Linked DNA regions of Homo sapiens. The protein of the gene in region 2 purifies or fractionates together with the protein of the main gene of each other region. This does not show direct contact. Each region holds a gene or a part of one and is shown on either strand. Other genes may lie near its edges. The genes, in order: DET1 and ETV4.

Region 1 (3,817 bases), on a different chromosome or scaffold from region 2:
TGAGGCAGGAGAATTGCTTGATCCTGGGAGGCAGAGGTTGCAGTGAGTCGAGATCGTGCCATTGCACTCGAGCCTGGGCAACAGACAGAGACTCCGTCTTATAAAAAAAAAAAAAAAAAAAAAAAAAAAAGACCGAAGGGACCAAATGCAATGCATGAACCTTGTTTGAATCTGATGCAAACAAATTAACTATAAAAAGAATATTTATAAGACAACAGGGATACATAAAAACTGACTAGATATTTGAAGATATTAAAGATTTTTTGTTAATTTTTTAAAGATGGGGTAATGGTGTTACTTGTTTTGCTAGGATAGCTTGGATTTCCTTTAAAATAACCCAGGACAGTGGTGGGAAGGGGAGGGAGTAGGGGTCGTGATGGAAATAGCTGAAACAGGAGTGGCCACGAGCTGGTAACTGTTGAAGTGGGTGATGGGTACATGAAGGTTTATTATGCTCTTCTACTTTTTGTATACGTTTAAAACTTTCCATAATAAAAAAAATATTAACTAGTTTTTGGAACTTGACTCTAATTTCCCAAAGGAAATATTATAAATGGTGATTAATTATACAGACTATGTCACACAGGCACATTTAATACACAATGAGACTGGATGATGAAATATATCTATCATAAAGATCTAACTACCACTGTTTCTGTGTGAAAAAGACCTTCCAAGCTCCAGCCTATAGCCTCAGGAACACACCCCCCTTGAGATAACTCCACTAGTGACAATAATTCCAGCTCCTCCCCCTAATATTATTACAGCACACAGAACAGGCTCCATATATGTAGTGACAGTTGGGTCTGTGAACTAGACTTCTGTGAGGAAAGAATTTCTTGTAAGACGTCAGTTTCAAACTTCTAACAATAACACAGTAGTCTACATTCCAAAATTCCTCCAAGTGAGGAAGCATGAGTTTCTTCTAAATCTGTCAGCAGGTCCCCAAATTGTCTCTGCTATTTTTTCTATGAGGTAACATGGCGGGATAAAATAATTTGTGTTAGATACATAATTATAAAGTCTCAATGTCAAAAACTATTATGGAATGGTATTAGATTATTAAATGGGAAAGTACAGCTTCCTCCCCTGGATACCTTTAAAAGAGGACAACACTTATCTGAATTAGATGTTCTGATGAGAAGCAAAGAGTAGGAATAATTTAGGAGACTAGCACCTAAATGATCACAGCTCTCACTGCATTATAGAAATAGCCTGCCTTTTCAACCTTACCCATGAGTACGAGTCACAGTCACAATCAAATGATGTCCAGAAAAAGAGAAAAAGAAAGCAGGCCATCTTCAGCCCTTGAGCAGTTTGTAGCTATAGCAGTGACACTGTACCTGATTGGGTGATCTCCACAAGTCTTGGGCCGCTCCATGACAGATACCCACTTGTCATCATAACTGAAGAGAGACAAATCCAGATAGGGGCTACCGCTGTAAGACTGAGCACTGATGGGGAGCTGACCCAGCAGCCGGCGTACTGCCTCTGTGTGCCCTCCATACTTGGCATTTATAATAGTGTCTTTGAACCTAAATGAAAGGACCGGTGAGGAAGGCTTTGTTAGTGAGTACACAAAGCTGTCTTGAATTTTAAATTGACAAATATATGTCTAAGAACAACTCATTCTTTAAATACAAATTAAAACCTAGGTAATGAATTAAGATAGAACTGTCTCTCACACATTACAAGTCTGGCCAGCTACAAATACTTTTAAAAAGCAAAACATATAACTAAAAATGGAAAACAACAAATTACTTTAGAAATGTGTTTGGGTTTTGGGTTTTTTTTTTTTTTTTTTTGAGACAGGGTCTCGCTTTGTTGCCCAGGCTGGAGTACAGTGGTGTGATCTCAGCTCACTGCAGCCTTGACCTCCCAGGCTCAAGTGTTCCTCCCACCTCAGCCCCCAGAGTAGGTGGGACTACAGGCACGTGCCACCACACCCAGCTAATTTTTGTATTTTTTATAGAGATGGGATTTTGCCATGTTGCTCAGGCTGGTCTTGAACTCCTGGGTTCAACTGATCTGCCCGCCTTGGCCTCCCAAAATGCTAGGATTACAGATATGAGCCACCACACCCGGCCCTACTTTAGAAAAGTTAACAAAGACTCTACAAACAAGTTTAAAATGAGTATAACTAGTTTATGGCAACTATTTCTACTCTTTTCTAATAACAGCTCAACTGGGGAAAAAGGTCAAGAACTTATTTTCCCCAAATAATTGCCTTAGACTGAATTAGGAAGGAGTTACAGAGAACCCTGAACAGAAGCAGCCTCTGACTCTTCTTGGGATCACCAACTTCTAGCAAGCCTTTCACAAATAAATTACGCATTCTTTGTTTGTTTAAATAAAATTTGGAAACTAGCTACCTATATTCCTGCAGAGACACCAGTATCTAGAAGAATAGTAACATACATAGAGTCATATATCTGACTTATCTTTGAAAATAATAACAGAACAGTTATTTCTCATCACTGTCACAAATGCTAAATTTTATTTTATTTTTATTTTTTGAGACAGGGTCTCACTGTGTTGCCCAGGCTGGAGGGCAGTGGCACAACCCCAGCTTACTGCAACCTCCACCTCTCCTGGGCTCAAGCAATCCTCCTACCTCAGCTTCCCAAGTAGCCAGGACGACAGGTGCGTGCCACCACACCCAGCTAATTTTTTTTTTTTTTTTTGTAGAGACAGGGTCTCGCCATGTTGCCCAGACTGGTCTTCAACTCCTGGCCTCAAGCGATCCACCCACCTCAGCCTTCCAAAGTGCTGGGATTACAGGCATGAGACACAGTGCCTGGCCACAAAACTAAATTTAATACTCTTTGACAAGTACTTCTATTCTTCTGGAAATTTACCCTAAGGAATCACTCCTACATGCAGAAAAATCTCTGTGTACATTCATACAGCATTGTTTATAGAGGAAGAAAAAATTAAAAAGCTAATGGAAAACTACCATTTTCAAAGATTATATGGTAACAGGGGAAATGTTTATCACATTTACAAATAAAAGAAGTAGGATACAATACTGTCTATATAATATGGCTAAAAACACAAAGAAAACAAAAACTCACACTTAAAGCAAAGACTGGCAGAAACACATTAAAATGTTAATAGTTGTATAATGACATTTTGAATTTTTTCCTTATTTTTCACTATCCTACAGCTTCTTAGAAAGAATGTCAACTGTCTATCAGTATATATTTTTTAAACCTCTATATTCAAGCATATCATATGGTTCAACAATCAAGGGGATATCAATTTTTTTTAGTCTGGGAGAAAAGTATAATATCTCATCCCTGAAACAAATGGAATAAAAAACTTCAGTGTTCCTAACTTTCATGAGACCACAAAGATTAATTAGTTGGGGGTAATTTTTATTTTCACTATTAACCTATGGTATTAGATGGACATGAACACTTTTCTGCTCCCCCTAAAGAAAGCCTAGCAAGCAACACTGCTTTTCCATTACTCCTACTGACAGTAATTTTCACAGCCTCAGTATAAATCATAAAAATAAATCTTGGGCCAAATAGAGCTTATTTTTTCCCTTTCATTTGAGCTGAAATAAAAGATCCTGGGCACTTCGGTTTTCAGCAAGACCTGGCACCATCTCATCTACACCTTAGCCCTGCCTGACTCACCGACTCCCTGGCTTTCAAAGGTAAAATGATGGGGGCTGGCTCACAGCTTTGTGATGACCACAAATCAAAGCATCTGTGATAATCTACAAGTTGAAACAGTTCCTCTTCCTCCACAGCACCTACCACCTCCACTCTCCATGCTCCCCACTGATTAAAAGCAGTCACTCTCTTCG
Region 2 (3,817 bases):
CACTGCACTCCAGCCTGGGTGACAGAGCAAGACTCTGTCTTGGGGGGAAAACAAACAAACAAACAAACAAACAACACTAGAACTGGACTCTGCTGAACTGGCCCAGGCCCCTCACTTCAGATATAAGGCAATGGAGAACCAGAGGGATAGTGTCTGCTCTAAGGTCACACAGCAAGAACATGTCAAGCCCCAGATTTCAACCAAGGTTTTCATTCCAGTTATTGCCTTGGTCTTTAAGATCAAACCCCACTGTGTTTTAGGAGAGAACAAGCTGCTCTCTTGTGATTCTCTATCCTATGACTCACTTCCTGCCATCCTCCACTCCCTATACCCTCTCCCCAGGGACCTCTACTCACGGTTTTCTGAATGGAAATCAGGAACAAACTGCTCATCACTGTCTGGTACCTGAGCTGCAGAGAGAAGTCAGAGGTGAGTTTGGGGCGGAGCCCTGGTTGTCCCCTGGGAGGCTCCATTATTACAGCCCTGCAGATTAGCAACAGCCAAGAAAGGACCAACAGCCTTTAGATCAGGGGTGTCCACATTGTAAGAATTGTCTTGGGCCACACATAAAATACACAAATACACTAACACTAACGATAGCTGATGAACTTAAAATCACAAACAAATCTCATAATGTTTTAAGAAATTTTACAAGGAATTTATGTTGGGCCTGGGCCGCATTCAAAGCTACCCTGGGCTGAAAGTGGCCCACAGGCCCACGGGTTGGACAAGCTTGCTTGAGACTAAAGGCTGCTCCACCCTAGGTCCTAGTGTCTTCCACCTCTGGGCTCCACTAAGACCCAGGAGGGAAGACTGTTCTCAGAACCTGTCTGAGCAGATTCCAGTCTTTCTTCTTCTAGATGCTTTGTCTTTATTTCCTCCATTTTTCTGAAGTGAAACAGCCTCGCCCCTCAGAGTTTACAAAACTCCCTTAAAGCTCACAACAGTCATATCTAGGATGGGCAGGCATTATAAGCAGTGGGATCCTGTGGATTTAAAAATCACATAGGAGGCGGCCAGGCATGGTGGCTCACGCCTATAATCCCAGCACTTTGGGAAGTCAAGGCGGGTGGATCACCTGAGGTCCGGAGTTCGAGACCAGCCTGGCCAACATGACGAAACCCCATCTTTACTAAAAGTACAAAACTTAGCTGGTCGTGTTGGCGGGAGCCTATAATCCCAGCTACTCAGGAGCTGAGACAGAAGAATCGCTTGAACCTGGGAGGCAGAGGTTGCAGTGAGCTGAGATCGCACCACTGCACTCCAGCCTGGGCAACAAGAGTGAAACTCCATCTCAAAAGAAAAATAAAATTAAATAATAAATAAAATCACATAGGGGGGTGGCTGGGCGCAGTGGTTCATGCCTGTAATCCCAGCACTTTGGGAGGCTGAGGTGGGAGGATCACTTGAGATCAGGAGTTTGAGACCAGCCTGGCCAACAAAGTGAAACTCCCATCTCTACTAAAAAATTAAAAAATTAGTCAGGCGTGGCGGTGGGCACCTGTAATCCCAGCTACTCGGAAGGCTGAGGCAGGAGAATTGCTTGAACCCAGGAGGCAGAGGTTGCAGTCAGCTGAGATCATGCCACTGCACTCCAGCCTGGGTGACAAAGTGAGACTCTGTTCCAAAAAATGAAAAATAAAGGCCGGGCATGGTGGCTCATGCCTGTAATCCCAGCACTTTGGGAGGCCGTGGTGGGCGGATCACGAGGTCAGGAGTTTGAGACCAGCCTGACCAGCATGGTGAAATCCTGTCTCTACTAAAAATACAAAAATTAGGCCGGGCGCGGTGGCTCACGCCTGTAATCCCAGCACTTTGGGAGGCTGAGGCGGGCAGATCACCAGGTCAGGAGATCAGGACCATCCTGGCTAACACAGTGAAACCCTGTCTCTACTAAAAATACAAAAAAAATTAGCCGGGTGTGGTGGCGGGTGCCTGTAGTCCCAGCTAATCCTGAGGCAGGAGTATGCCTGAGGCAAGAGAATGGCGTGAACCTGGGAGGCGGAGCTTGTAGTGAGCCAAGATCAGGCCACTGCACTCCAGCCTGGGTGACAGAGCAAGACTCCATTTCAAAAAAAAAAAAAAAAAAATTAGCTGGACGTGGTGGCACGCCTGTAATCCCAACTATTCCGGAGGCTGAGACAGGAGAATAACTTGAACCCGGGAGGTGGAGGTTGCAGTGAGCTGAGATCACACCACTGCACTCCAGCCTGGCGACAGAGCAAGACTCCATCTCAAAAATAAATAAATAAAATAAAAAAGGAGGATGACAGTGGGAGAGCAGGAGGCTGGTGACTGGGACCACTGCAGAAGGCAAAGGACACTGGCTGAGTACATAGGTGCCTCATCCCCTTAATGTGCAGCTAAGGAGGGGAGGGATTCCCAAGGTTGGTGATCCGAAGAGCTCTCCCAGGATGCCAGGATGGGTGGAGCTGGGTTGGGGAATAGGCAGGAAAACTGAAATACAGCAGCAGCTCATCCATGGCTTCTAACCTGAACATCAAACTCTGATTTCTAGTTCTTATTCTGGCCTCCCCAGAGCGGGGCTTCTCAGGTGGTTATACAGCTAAGAATCTCCCTTGATCCCAGAGTCTTGGCCCACTTTTGCCCCTCTCTCAAAAATAAATGGATCACAGCAGGAAATGTAGACACCAAGAAGAACTTCCTGATATTATTCCAGGAAGAGAGTGGTTCTAGGGTGATGCAGTGGAACCTGTAGCCCGAGGAGGCTGGACTCTCCTTCCCTGGAGACTGCTCTCTCCTTCCCTGGAGACTGCTCTCAGATTGGACAATGGGGAAACTGATAAAATGCCCAGAGAGGTCAAAATGGCTGGTGAGGGGTATGAGATGGCTAGAAAAAACCTCCACACCCCCGGCCTATACAAATACATATCCCATCTCTTTTGCTTCTCTCTAGGCTAAGGCTCCATCATTTCTTACTTGGATTTCACCCACGGCCTCTTACCAGGATACCCTATTTTCATTCTTACCTCCTATGGTCCCTTGCTCTCCACCTAGGTGTCACAGTGATCTTTTTACAACAGAAATAAAATCATTTCTCTCTGTTATTTAAAGCATGAAATCCAAACGCTTGCCCTTGGCCTCCAAGGCTCTGCATGACTTGGCCTTGCCTACCTCTCTGACCTGCCTCTCCTTGCCTGTGAATCTGCAGCACTCTGGTCTCCTTTCTAGCCCTCAAAGCTGCTGAGCTTGTTCCTTCTTCCCCAGATGCTTTCTTGCCTTTTTCTTTTTTTCCTGACCATCAGAGTCTCAGCTCACTTTGACATCTCTGGAGAGGCCTTCTCTGACCACCCCTAAACCAAAGTGGTTCCTCCTGGCTCTCTATTGCATCTATGTTTTGTTTTCTCCCTGGCACATATTGCCACCTGAATATATTAATTTATGTTTACCTGTTTGTTATCTACCTATCTCCTCCACCAGGAAGTTAAGCTCTGTGAGGGCAAGAGCTTTATCTTTTTTGTCATCTGATGCCCCAGCACCCAGCACAGGGTTAGAGTAGACGCTCAGTGCTGTTATTTCTTGACTACATGAATAAACATGCAATAATCGTTTGTCCTCAGGCTGGCAGAAGTCAGCACTGTGGGCCTGAGGGCATGCACTGAAGAGATCCTGACCATCCTAGCCCTTCCCTGCAGGCTCCCCCTCTCCACACACAAGGCAACACTAGAGGCAGGTCCTCTCCAGGAAAGCACATCTCACAGGGGATATTTTAGGTTGTGATATGTTGCTTGGCAAGAATATTCTTCAACAATTTGCTTTAAATATCAGAGGTGCCAAGTGTTTATAAACATAGGCT

Evidence for each region.
Region 1: the proteins of ETV4 (region 2) and DET1 purify together in Homo sapiens (affinity purification with mass spectrometry; one large-scale study listed by BioGRID and IntAct). This does not show direct contact.

The regions. Positions count from the first base shown.
Region 1 is NC_000015.10:88,515,439-88,519,255, forward strand, and holds part of DET1 (DET1 homolog), read right to left. Parts: intron 1,536-3,817; coding exon 1,344-1,535; intron 1-1,343. UniProt on the Homo sapiens protein: Component of the E3 ubiquitin ligase DCX DET1-COP1 complex, which is required for ubiquitination and subsequent degradation of target proteins. The complex is involved in JUN ubiquitination and degradation.
Region 2 is NC_000017.11:43,536,070-43,539,886, forward strand, and holds part of ETV4 (ETS translocation variant 4), read right to left. Parts: intron 706-3,817; exon of another isoform or gene 411-705; coding exon 357-410; coding exon of another isoform or gene 343-356; intron 1-342.